Linked DNA regions of Homo sapiens: regions 1 and 2 are each linked to region 3. The links come from fine-mapping of genetic effects on gene expression. A gene starts in region 3. Each other region holds a variant in brackets. All regions are shown on one strand. Distances are from middle to middle.

Region 1 (4,246 bases), 190 kb before region 3:
TAGCAATCTAAATGTGGAGCAGCACCATCCCTTTTTTTCCCTACCTAAGACATTGTTCCACCTTACCATAAGATGCCATTAAAACTTGCCCACTTGCTTATTATGAAACGCGTAACTCAGAAATGAGTAGCACATAAGTCCAGACGAAAATGCATCACAACAACTGAGCCGTGAAGACACCACTGGTCTCCTTTTCTGTGAATACTGTTGGATTCCTAGGACTTCTTGGAATGAATCAAAGTAAAATGACTTTATAAAACTTTCATGGTAGAATCAGACAAAATAATAAGCAGAGCGTTTCAGCTAAATTGCCCTAATGTATTACTGTCAAGAACCCTGTTAGTCTTCAAATCCAAATTATCTGTTCAAATCCAGTTGCTCCTATTTATGCAGAGTCCTTTTCAAAGTTTCTTGGAGGTCTGGGGTCAGAAAAAACCAGGGGGACATGGAGGAGTAGAATAATCAATCTCTAAAAAACCAGTGACATTTCTGATATTGTTGAAATACATTATTTTGTGGTGAAGACTAAATACCATGTGATGGTGTTAATGAGATGTTTCTGTCCCATGAGCCATATAAAGGACATGCCCTGCTGGCCCTTTCTACTAGACATTGAAACTCAGGTTAACACCATTTTCATGGCGGGTCTTCTTTTGTAGCTCTATTGTTTTGCTTCCACATTAGCTGTTTTTTGTCTTGGAGCAAGTCGAGAAAAACAAAAACCATCACATTCCCTGTGGTGCCCTCTCTGCATGTGTGGAGCTGCTTTGAGTTAAGTGTCTCCAGTTGGTATGTTAGATTGGCCATGGGCCACTCGGTACCTCCACAATGCCTCAGGAAATGGTTATTTTTTTCATCCTCTTTGGATGAGGAAAGAGAGTCTATGACCTCCCCCATTAATTCCTTCCAAGACCTTAAAGTGATTGTTTTACTTCTAAGGCTCTTACTTTCTACCTTTAAAAAATAAAATAAACAAACAAACATGTCTCTTCTAGCTCATGTCCTGGACTATTCTGAAGTTTGATTAAGTTATGAGAAGTGTTTTGGAAATCATAAAGATGTAAGTAAATGCAAGACATAATCATATCACCAGGTCATATTCACTTCCTGTCAGTGTTATATTATTTAGTCTTATTATATGGGATTAGCCACATTCTGTGTGTTATTAAAATCTTGTGGTGTCTATCATCATCTGTTGAAAAGAATTAAACCCTTTCAACATAATAACATTTCAATTAGTTTTGTGTAGTTTACCTACTCTTAAACCAGTTTACCTACATTACACTTCTTTGTATATTTCCAAACTAAATATTTTAACCCTACTTTGTCTTTCTCTTCAAAGTATGTGGACTAATTTTTATTAGTCTGAGAACCCATTTACTTCCCTTGGATTAGAACCACTTTCAACTGCTTATTCATATTCTGATGAAAGTTTAGTAGATGGTATTTCTACATCCTACCCCCTCTTTCTGTGTCTGCTCATCATCCTATTTTCTCATTTTCCTTCAAATTTTTACACATCTACCGGATTGCTCCAGAATTTTCTCACCTACATCTTGAAGCTCACTTCCTGGTAAGAGGTTCAGGGACTATTTCAGGTCCTGAACCTCAACCTTTTAGCCACTTAACAACTCCAGCTCCCCAGCTGTCTAACTCATCTTTGTAGTTATATACAATACAGATTATTCACAACTTCATATGGAAGGTATTTCTGTCCTACATTTTTAAATTTAGGGACCTCATTTGAGTCATATTGCTCACTAATTAGTGAAATAAGGGATAAGGTCCAGATAAGGGACCAATGTGGAAGATCAGGTACAAATATTTTCCTGGATGTCAGAGTGCAGATATGTATACTTCTCCCATCATTACAACAAAAAGAAATTACACTAATGATTATTTCAGGGGTAAATTTGCCTCTCAAATTCTCCAACCCTTAAGGATATTGACACATATGCCAGTGTTACTTACTCGAGTCACCTCCAATAAGAGGAATTTATTGGAGTATACTAACTAAACACCTAGGATCTTTTATGTGCCTTGGATAGGAAACAGACTATTGAGTCATCCAAGCTGCTTGATTTTGCAGTTATAGGTGTCAGTTACTAAAGTGCTGTGATATCAAGCACGTGCACATGGAGAGCATACTGTTGAGTATTTTTATAAGGAATTAGTCAATGTAATTGTGGGCTGTAAAGAGATTGTTACACAACCTCATTATAGGTTGTAAACACTTCATCACATGACATCTTTCCATGTCATAAATACATCATCAGCGACCATTATGTTCTCTAATGATGACTTCTTGCATACATTC[G/A]TCACACAAAAATGAGTAAATACCATAAGGAGAGCATAATCTGTGCAGTTTTTCACTGCTATGATAACTCCATCTGTAGAATTTCTTATGGCATGCTGTTTATTTACATAGTCTGTCAAACAGCATAAAGATAAGGATACTTGCTCTTTGCTCTTTATTCTTAAAACCACTTTTGGCTAGAGGTAATAAAATCTGACCTGACCTGTATGGTTTAGAAAATTATATTTTTAAAAAAAGGAAGAGAAAACGACAAAAAATAGGGGTGGTAGGGGGAGAAGGAGGAGAAAAAAATGGAAAAGAGCAAACCACTTACAGCTATTTAAAATAATTGTGTGATATAGACCTTTTTATGTTTGTGTGTATATGAGTTGATTCTTTTAGACATGTTTGACTTTAGACATGCTTGGCAATTGGTTTACATAAAGTAGTAGAACTGACAGCTCCCTGTGCCCAGGGTTAATTTCAACTTCTTTAAAATTAAAATACTAATATCAGTTTATTTCTCCAGGGCCACATGTTGTATATTTTCACTAATTAGCAATTTTCACCTTTGTGCACGACTCCTCCCTAATACTCATGCCTTAGATTATAGGATACAGGAGGACATCTATAAAATTAGACTAAAGCAATCATTTCCAAACTTGTTTTATGAAGCCATGGGTTATGTTTTTGTCCCCAACGTCTCTAATAGAAATAGGTTGGTGGGCCAGGCAGCCTCAACAACCCATCCTACCTCAACCATGGAAGCTCCACTTTCATATGTTTTTAAAATTTGGGCATCAGAATATGAAATCCACTAGAGTAAATGATACACATGTTTATTTGAGCCCTAATCTGCCATGGTGTCTTATTTTTGTGGACTGCCAGCGGTTATCATGGGATAGTGGTGGTAGGCAGCAGGAGATTGGCCTAGGCCTCTCATTGATTAAAACATAAAGTTTAGACTTTTGATCTTATCACCAAGTTAAGTCATATACAGTCAATGTGTTTGTGTGTACCCATGTATATGTGCGTTAACTGTTTATTTGTTAGACACAGGCATTTAAAATATACCACATTTTAATAACCCTGAGTTGGCATTTCCTCATTTTAAAATGTACTTGGGCTCTCAAGCCATAAGAATTTCTTGTTCATTTCTTTACCTCGGAGGAATTCTGATGATTACCCTGCAATACAGTGGTAAAATCCATGCCACGGCTTCTACCTGCAGGTCTAGGAAAGCATCTCTAGGGGTTATGAACTTCCTCTGTTATTAAAGGATTCTCTAGCACCAAGTGGGTTCTGAGGTAAGACCCGCAGAGATCACTTCACTAGGTTTCTTCATTTAATTCCCACAATAGTCCTATGTAACTACTATTATCTCAACTTTCATATGAGGAAGGTGAGGCTTAGAGAGACTAAACAAGACAGTAAGTGACAGAATGTTATTCCAACCCAGGCAGGCTACCCCCAGAAACCAAGATCTTAACTATTAAGTCAGATTTACATTAAAGTTAATACAAATTACTGCTTATTTCACTTTGAAACATATTAGAAATGACCAAGAATTAAATAACTCAAGAGGAACTACTTACTTTTTGTTGTTTATATACTATTATTTTAGTGTCTCTGATTGAGGATGGCTAAATAAAACAAAAAAAATTTTAACTTAATTTCCTAAAATTTATGAACACACACATGCATATACATAAGACACACACTATATACATGAAATTATCTACTCTTATACATACACACATATATAAAATGACATAATAATATAGTAAAATAATTCATGTAAGAGAATTCATTTTGATGTAGCATGCAAACATCTGACTGAAAAGAAGTAGAAAGGTCAGAATATATTTTATAAAGAACGCATAAAATTGAATAACAACAACAAAGCCCAATTCAAAAATTGGCAAAAGAAATGAATACACATTTATCCAA
Region 2 (4,246 bases), 980 kb before region 3:
TGGATTTGTATTTTACTTGCCTAGTAATAAGAAACAGTCAACATTTTTTGATTGGGGTAAGGAATGGAAGCACCAGGAAATGTGTGTTAAAAAAAAAGTAGTCTGTGTCTGCCTGTTCTATTAATGGAGTGAGTGGGGCTCTGAGAAAGGAGCCGACCAGGCATTGAGCAGCTGAAAGAAAGTGAAGCTAAGGTAACCTGTGCTAGTGAACTGTGGGTGAGGGTGGAGGAGCACTGATGGGATCCAGCTGCTGAATGGATGTTAGGGATGGTGGTAAGGTGAAGGGAAATGTCAAATAAGTTTTAAAGGTTTTGAGCAAAGAAGGCCATCTGATGGGAGTACCATAGTATGGACAAGACAGGAAGAAGAATAAGCTTGGAGGAAAAGAGAGATGGTCAGTCTTCTGCAAACGGAAGACTGATGCCTGGAAGAATAATGTAGCCTAGAAATAGAGTTGGGAAGTTATCTCTGTAGAAATGATGCTTGAGACATAGCATGAACCAGAAGTGAGCTTTTGAAGTTACACACTTGAGAAAGGATAGCAGTGTACTAGTGCAGCTTTGGAATGCTCCCTAAAATTAATCTGACCTTGATGGTGTGTAAAACTCAGGGCTAATTCAGAGTTAATTTTTATATTAAATTTCTTCTCATTTTTAAAGCAATCATCAAAATAACGTTATTTTCTGTTTCAAACTAGAAAGATTTCAGATGACTGGCATATGTCCCTTTTCTTAATTGAGCCCATCATTCCTTCACTTCAACGAACTCTCCTATATGTGAATGGAGTGCATAAAAGGAAAGGATTTTGAGGAATTATCTTTGCTACAAGCAGTAGTTACTGTAAAATAGCAGAGCTGAAAAATAAATACCTCAGAGCTTTATATTAGTGAATTACCTCATTTTTATTGATGAATTGCCTCATTTTACCTCTGTGAAACTGTGTTTTTCTAGCCACTGTTTCTAAAGACATAGGAATTCCCAGGAGTTGGCATCAGGAATCTAGAAAAGACCAATGTCATCTCATAGAAAACTCATGAGCTTATCTGGTAAGAGAAGGGAGGGGCTTCACACGACATGCCTGCCTTTTTCCCTCCTAGGTGCTTGTGATATTTGTTCTTGGTATCATGTATAGAATGCTGGTGTGTTTGCCTCAAATCCAGATTGTTAATATTTAGTTGTCAGAAAGATAAAACTATGATTCTTATATAAATATAGGATATAGTGCAGTTCTTATTAACTAGTTCACTAGTTTATACTAGTGAACTAGTATAAATTAACAATAGTTCACTTATATAACTCATCCAGAAATATGACATACCTGGTTCAAAGGGCCTTTGAGGATTAAGAGTGTATATAGTCTATCAGGAAAGACATATTAAAATAAAATTTTACTTTTGAAGTTAGAGACAAAACAGTTTAAAGAGCTATTAGGCAATAAAATCATAACCTTTGGGACTGTCAATTCAATCAGAAAAAAAGTAATTTGCACTTCTATAGGATCAATATTTTAATTAAGGTAACTGGTAAACTCACAGAGGCTGGGCCCTGATCAAGTACAAATAGCAAATCAAGTAAGGTTTATTTTCCTAGAGGAGAGCAAATGTTGACAAATTACAGTAGACCAAAATCCACTGGCCACTTGGTTTTCTAAATAAAGTTCCTTTGGGACAAAGCTACACCCATTTGTTTGTTTCCTATGGCTGATTTTGTGCTACAAAGGTAGAGCTGAATACTCATGACAGAATATATGGTTCTCAGAGCCTAAAATGTGTACCATATGACCCTTTGCAGGAAAAGTGTCTTGACTCCTGGCCTAGAGAATGAAATAATCCTTGGGTGGGCTGGTAAACAATGAACATGCAATAATCCATTTACCTGCTCGTACATTGTGGATAATTTCTCCCAACAAGGGAAAGAAATGGAAATCTTGACAAGGGAAAGAAATGGAAATCTTGACAAGGGAAATCTTCTAGTATAAGGATGAAAAACAACAAAGCTCAAGCTACCTGGTGTGCAAGGTCAGGGGTCATGTCTTGACTCCCAGTCATAATCCAGTGTTAAGAGTATCGGTTTCTTGTGTATATTCTAGTGGGAAGAGAGAGAGAAGGAGACAGAGAGAGAGAGAGAGAGAGAGAGAGAGAGAGAGAGACAGGGTGAGACAGAGAGAGAGAGAGAGAATGAACTAGAGAACTGTGAGTGTGGATATGATTTCCTTGCCTCAGCCCTGCAACTCAGGACAGTCACAGAACATGGGTTGGCTAAGGTGTCACTCTGGGAGCCAGAAGACCTGCATTCAGACAGAGGCTCATTGTTTTAAGGTTTGTATTTAGTTTGGTTCCAGCGTGACCTGTTCTTTCAGCTCCTCAAACACTCAGCACCTCCGTTCTCAGAAACAGCCACAGAGATGAACCACATTTTCTTCCTACAGAAACACTGAAGTCAAGCTCAGAGTCTGCTTGCTTG[G/A]GAGGCAACATGCCTTCCCAGTTTTAGAAGAGAAGGTGGGACCAGATGACCCCTGCTTCTCAAAAATCTCCATATGTTTTTATAAGCATATTTAAAAATAATGCTGTTTGCATAAACATATATGCTACATTAATTTCCTTTTAAAAATTATTTTAAAAATATGTTATTGTATAACCAAGAAAACGAAGATATGTCTCTCCCTCTAAGGTCTGGAGATAATGTACCATTGTCAGAATACTTAAAGGTACCCTAATTTTCCAAACGTGAACTCTAAACAGAGGATACTAAAAAGAGTCATTATAATCATTGCATTTAGATTCCTCAATATTTAAGTCTGTGCCCAGGGTACAATTGTTGAGTGCGGCAGGCAGATTGAGAATTTGGCTGACATATTGGTATTTCAGTGGGAGGATTTCAGAGCTTACTTAGAGAAATACCTATAGATGTCATCATACTAATGACTATCTGCACCCAAATAAATTCAAGTGGGCAGCACTGTTAAGGTCACATAGCAGAAATATATTCATTCTAGAAGATCTAGATATAGTACAACTTTATTTAACTTCAGATTAGTGATGAGTCTATACTCTTGTTAGTGGAATAACCATGTAAATTATCATTGAATTGTCAAATAAAGTCCTTACAGACATTTAGAGTTTAATAAGATGTAACTTAAAATCTATAATGGTTGTGCAGTCCCAAGAATAAGGTGTGATAGAACTGTTGGATTTCACCATGTTTAGAGCTCTTTATGCCCAGGGAGAAGACATGTATACTCCTTAAGAGGCAAAGAAATGGCAAAATTTAAATGAGATCACCTCATGTTGAAGTTGCAGACTTTGTTATATATTGTGAATCCAGAAATTTATTGGACTAGTGGCCACTCCTTCATGTAATTGTGGGTTAATTTATATAGCAACTATAGACTGAGTTTAGAGCATCCATTCATGTCTACAGTAAGAATCCGGCCAACTTGTTGAACAAAAACTCCATGTCCTTATTACCCTAAACAATACTGGAGAGGCATCAACCAAAATTATATGGCATAATATAATAGTTTATGTAATTCCAAATACTATACTTGGTTTAAATCTTTGATGGGAAACAGTGTCATTTAACTGGGATGGGGACACTCTTCCTCATTTAGTAGGTAACTTTTAACCTCAATGAGATTTAGAAAATTAGGGAAGTGTTTAGGAAATTTAAAACCATAATATTAATATTATCTCATTAAGAAATCTGTGTTAGGTTAGTATTTTATAATTTTCTAATATTTAAGAGTATTTAACCTAGTAGAGCACAGAAGAAGTCCAGTTTTAAAATTTATAATTGAACAATCATTTAAATTTTTTGTTTATAGAATTGGAATATTTAAGAGTATCAATGTTTCACCAAAATTTTAATTTAATTTATAAAATTTATATAAATTAGAGGTTAACTGAAATATGTAAAAATTAAATAACTAAATATTTAAAATGTAGTTAAAATGCTTAAGATATTTTAATACATTTATTTATAAAAACTATTATTTAAAGGTCCTTTAAAAGCAATCACTTTTAAACACTGCTAGAGAATAGGATTTTCAAGCTAAACACAAAATAACTTATAAACTAGATTCTTGAAGTTTTCGTATTAGTAAATTCAGTATTACTTGGTTGAATGCAAAATGAGCCTCTGAATAATCTTTTCTGCATATAAAAATTATACTTAAAAATATCCCCATCCCAGTCTCCCATATGACATTGCTAATTTTGGAGATAAAGAAATGGAATCAAAAGGAAGT
Region 3 (4,246 bases):
CGCCAATGACTGTCACTTTTTTGTGTGTGACACAGCGCTGACAGCCAATGCCGGGAACCTGGGAAAACCACCGCTTGATCTGACACCCTGCGTCCCCTATACAAACCCAAATGCGGAGTGCTGAGCGCTGTCTGGCATATAAACACACATAAATGGTGCATGTGACTTCCTTAGAGGCACTGTATAGAACTTCCTGACACACACACACACACACACACACACACACACACACCCTTATAGCTTCCAGACCCTGTAAGCTCAAGGCCACAACTTCTGAAGCCACTTATGACTTGTGTCCCAGGCCCCTACCCTCAGGGGTGTCTCGAAAGGCAGCTCCATCCCGCATCCCCACAGTGCAGTCAAGATACACATGTATCTTCCCGGGATTACGTAAATGGTGAATATCTATTAATGCACGTGTCAGCTGTTAAAAACACAGTACCAAGTGATCCTTCAGTACTGACCCCTCGCATTTCTGGAAACAAGTAGGGAGAACCCCAAACTCCTAGTACTTTCCTAAATGGGACACGGCTCTGAGCAAAGAAACCAAGTCTCCCGGAAACACTTGAAGAATGGAGATCACCATGGCAGAGCGGACAGGTTCTCAGCTAACGGGTGAAACCCAGGGGCTACCCTCTCAAAGGGATTTCTTTGACCCAAAAAAGTTTTTAAAAAAATTAAAAATAAATAAATAAATAAATAAAACACCTCATCTAAGTGTTAACAGCTCCAAAAGTATTCCAGGGAGAGGGGAAGAAAGAGGGGTGGAAGAGTGCGGGCCGGGAGGGTGAGGCTTACGGTCGCCCGGGGCAGCTGGAAGTGGGAGCCCCTGCAGGGCTCCGTTGCACGTGGACTGGAGAGGGGTCTGTTTACTTCTGGCCTGGACGTAAGGAAGGGCTCTACCGCAGTGGCTGCCCAAATCCCCCTCCCACCCACCACCCACCCCGGGCCCTGGCCCGCGTCCTCTACCTTTAGGAGACCGCAGTCCGTCTAAGAAGCACGCGGGGACACGTCCATTGAAAGAGCGTCCACATGGAAAAACTCTGGTCAAAGGACCTGGCGCAAGGACCGAATGTCCGTTCCTTTTCTTTGCCTCCTCCTTCTCCCGGGTGCCGGCCGCGCAGTCTCTCTTTTCACGCTGGGAACAGCGTCTCAGTGTCGGGCAAGGCCGAGGAGTGGAGGGGCGGTGGGGCTCGGAGATGGCGAAGCAGGCTCCGCTGGGGCAAAGGCACCGGCGCAAAGTGGGGTGCGCAAGTTATTCTCCCTGCAAGTTCAAGAAGTCCCCAGCCAAGTGCTGACACACAACAACAGCGAGCAGGGGGAGGAGTGCGGGGCAGGGAAGGGAAGGGAGAAAGGAGAAGCTGGTGCTGTCGTCCTCCTTAGGAACCAGCGCCCGAGGGACGCGTGGCCCCGCGCGGGGCCGGCTCCGGGACTCGGGGGTCGAGGGTCGGGCGCTCCGCGCTAGCTCCGCCGCGGCCCATGGCTCGGGGCAGCCATCCTGGGCGACGCCGGGTCCAGGGAAGGGCACGGCGGCGATCTCGGTGCCAGGCGAGTTGCCCCCCCGCATCACTCTGCCTTACTCCAGTGCACCCCCATTCGCGCTCGCCAGTTGAAAGCACCGCGGCTCTGGCGCCCCGTCGTCCTCGGGCGCATTCTCCGGCGAGTCGAGCCGAGTCCCGGGCCGCCGAGGCGGGTGGCTGTGCTCTCCCCTCGCTCTCCTAGCCCTGGGGCCAAGTGCCCTTTGTGGCTAGCCTGGGGTCCGATCACACCTCGGCCAGCGCGTCCCAGGCCCCCGATCTCCTGCAGTAGGTGCTCCGCATCGCGGCGCTAGGGATCGGCTCCGGAGTCCCCGGCGCTCTGCGCGCCCGTCCGCGGCTCTGGCGCAGCCCGGGCAGCAGAGGCCACGGCGCTGTGGCGCGCTCTGCCGGGTGCTCCAGCCCGCGCGGGGTCTGCGGCGCGCGGGTGCCTCGCGGTCCCCGGTGATCCACTCGGCGCTGGCCCCGAGAACGTTCGGGTAGCCGGCGGAGGCTGTGGCGGCAGATGTGCGGCGGCGGCTGCCAGTCCCCGGCGGGGTGTGGGAAGCGGAGCGACTAGCGCAGCGCGAGCCGGGCGCAGCGCGGCGGGGCGAGGACTCCGGCGGCGGCGACGGCGGCGGCGGCGCCGTGGCGCGGCGCTCGCGGCTTTTAAAGGGGACGCCGCCTGCCGGCTCCCTCCCGGCCGCGGCCGAACACCTCCCCCTTCGCGGCGCGGCTCGCCGGGGATCCCCGAGCGGGCGGGAGCTGCGCGCAGGGGTGTGGACGGCGCGCCCGGGCAGCCGCGGCGGGGTGGGGCGGAGGGCGGGGGCGCGCGGCCGCCAAGGGGGGCGCTCGCGCCTCCACTCCCTGCTCTCAAAGGAGAGATCAGCTGGCGCGCCGGACCCTCGCGGGGACTCTGGAGGCGAAATCCAGGACAAATGCAGGGTCAGGGTCTGGCCTCTTATTTCCCCGCTGGGCCCGTTATTCAACTTTCAGTTTGAAGTTTTTCGGTAATATACGATTTCAAAAAACAAAACAAAACAAAACACCTCAATTACAGCGTATTTTGGCATAGCATAGACGTGGGATCCACGCTTCTGTTTCCCCGGAATAGGAGGAAAATTAAAAGAAAACAGCAGGCTGGAAATTGAGTGTTTTTAAACATTAATACATAGAGATGTATGTATTTACATATGTAAATGCATGTGTACAAATTTTTTTACATAAATGTGTATGCATTTATTTTCATATCCATACGCATGTAAATTTATAGTTACATAAATATATCCAATATACAAAAATATGTGCATATATTTCTATAAATATATTCATGTATGAGAATATATGCAACCGAAGGGCCACATTTCGGTTAATATGTCTATGTATGTGACATGGATGTCATCCTGCTTTACGTGACATGTGTGTAACGTAGACTGCGTGTGTGGCAGACTGAAGGATGGATGGGAGGGATTTGATTTTTTTATTGTACAATCACTTTGTGCCTTGTGATATTTATCTCACCCAGCTCAGAGGCAGGCGATTAGCAGCTCAGAGGAAGGTAAAATAACGCACTGTGTGAACCAAGCATACAGGACAATTCCAGTTTGGGACCTTGGAACCTTCTACGCCACCCTCTTCCACCAGGCCCCCAAGAAGTAGGGCTGTGACACGTGGCCAAGTCACTCCTCAGCTGAATATTCACTGAAGTCACTCCTCAGCCGAAATACTGCTCAGAGCTGCTGCACGATGAGTCTGGGGCCAAGGCTTTCTGCCCTTCCCAGGATTCCAGGAGCCCCCATGCACAGCACCTCGGGCTTGCCCAAATGATCCCCAAAACCAAGGGCAGAAAATTTTTGGAAAAGGCCAAGTTCTGCTTTCCCAGAGCTATCGGGCCTGCGAAACAGAGAGAAAAAAGTCAGAAGCAGGAGCTGGTAATAGAACTATTATCCATGTGTATTATTTTTTCGGTAGGGGAGCTAAAATAATACTAGGTTCCGCTCACGTAAATCGGATTAGCAACCCACAGAGGCGAATTAGGCACTTGCTGTTTCTAAAGGTATAAAGGTCAAATAAGGTATTTTGGAGGAAGCCTGACTACCAGGAAAATAAAAGGGGGTGGGGGAATTATTCAGGAACATGCTACTTTATTTCCTGAAAAAAAAAAAAAAGGTGCTATAGAAGTTGATTGTCACTCAGAGTCATTGCACCGCAAACAAGGAGGCAATAAAACATATCCTACTCATGGACACAGGGCTTCTGAAATTATTTCCTTTCCTATCAAGTTTAATTGAGAAGTTAACAATTGTTTCTCTCATTACTTAGATTTCAAAAACAAAACAAAACAAAACTTCAATGAGATTTAAGTAGCTTTTAAAGAGGAGGAAAAGTTGATAACTATTGGATGCACCCGAAGAAAAAATAAATAAATATCCTGTGATGACCTCAAGGATGTCTTGCAGCTTTAGAACTTCATAACCTGGTAAGTGGAAACCTTGTCAGTTTAGAATCTGAGGGAAAATGGGTACTTCTGAACACTGTTTCATGTTAGTGCTGCCCATTGCAGAATCTCTTTTATGTAGGGTGTATGATTTCTGAGGAACTACTGAATGCTTGTTCCAAGCACAACTTACATAAATTTTGGCCCTATTTTTTTTTTTTTAGAGATGGCTGCCCTCTTGTGGTGGAAATGAGTTCGAACGCTTGAAAGAAAGAAGTCCATAAATAAATAAATA

The links. PIP is the estimated chance that this variant, and not a neighbour inherited with it, causes the effect.
Region 1: its variant is the best candidate, but not a certain one, in a credible set for the expression of BMP2 in whole blood (INTERVAL, PIP 0.70).
Region 2: its variant is the best candidate, but not a certain one, in a credible set for the expression of BMP2 in whole blood (INTERVAL, PIP 0.90).

Annotation. Positions count from the first base shown.
Region 1 is chr20:6,958,105-6,962,350 of GRCh38, reverse strand. No RefSeq gene overlaps it. Among named protein-coding and RNA genes, the nearest start is that of BMP2, 190 kb to the right of the region's middle. The variant G/A (reference allele first, on the strand shown) is at 2,318.
Region 2 is chr20:7,749,403-7,753,648 of GRCh38, reverse strand. No RefSeq gene overlaps it. Among named protein-coding and RNA genes, the nearest start is that of HAO1, 190 kb to the left of the region's middle. The variant G/A (reference allele first, on the strand shown) is at 2,464.
Region 3 is chr20:6,765,599-6,769,844 of GRCh38, reverse strand. BMP2 (bone morphogenetic protein 2) reads right to left here and starts at 2,159. Exons shown (of 3, transcript NM_001200.4): 1 at 970-2,159. LOC105372517 (a long non-coding RNA gene) reads left to right here and starts at 2,361. Exons shown (of 4, transcript XR_937229.2): 1 at 2,361-2,524; 2 at 3,040-3,445; 3 at 3,837-3,993; 4 at 4,176-4,246. RefSeq lists cis regulatory regions at 1,480-1,654, 2,295-2,394, 2,401-3,191, silencers at 2,026-2,075, 2,166-2,215 and promoters at 1,105-2,264, 1,654-2,295, 1,105-4,246.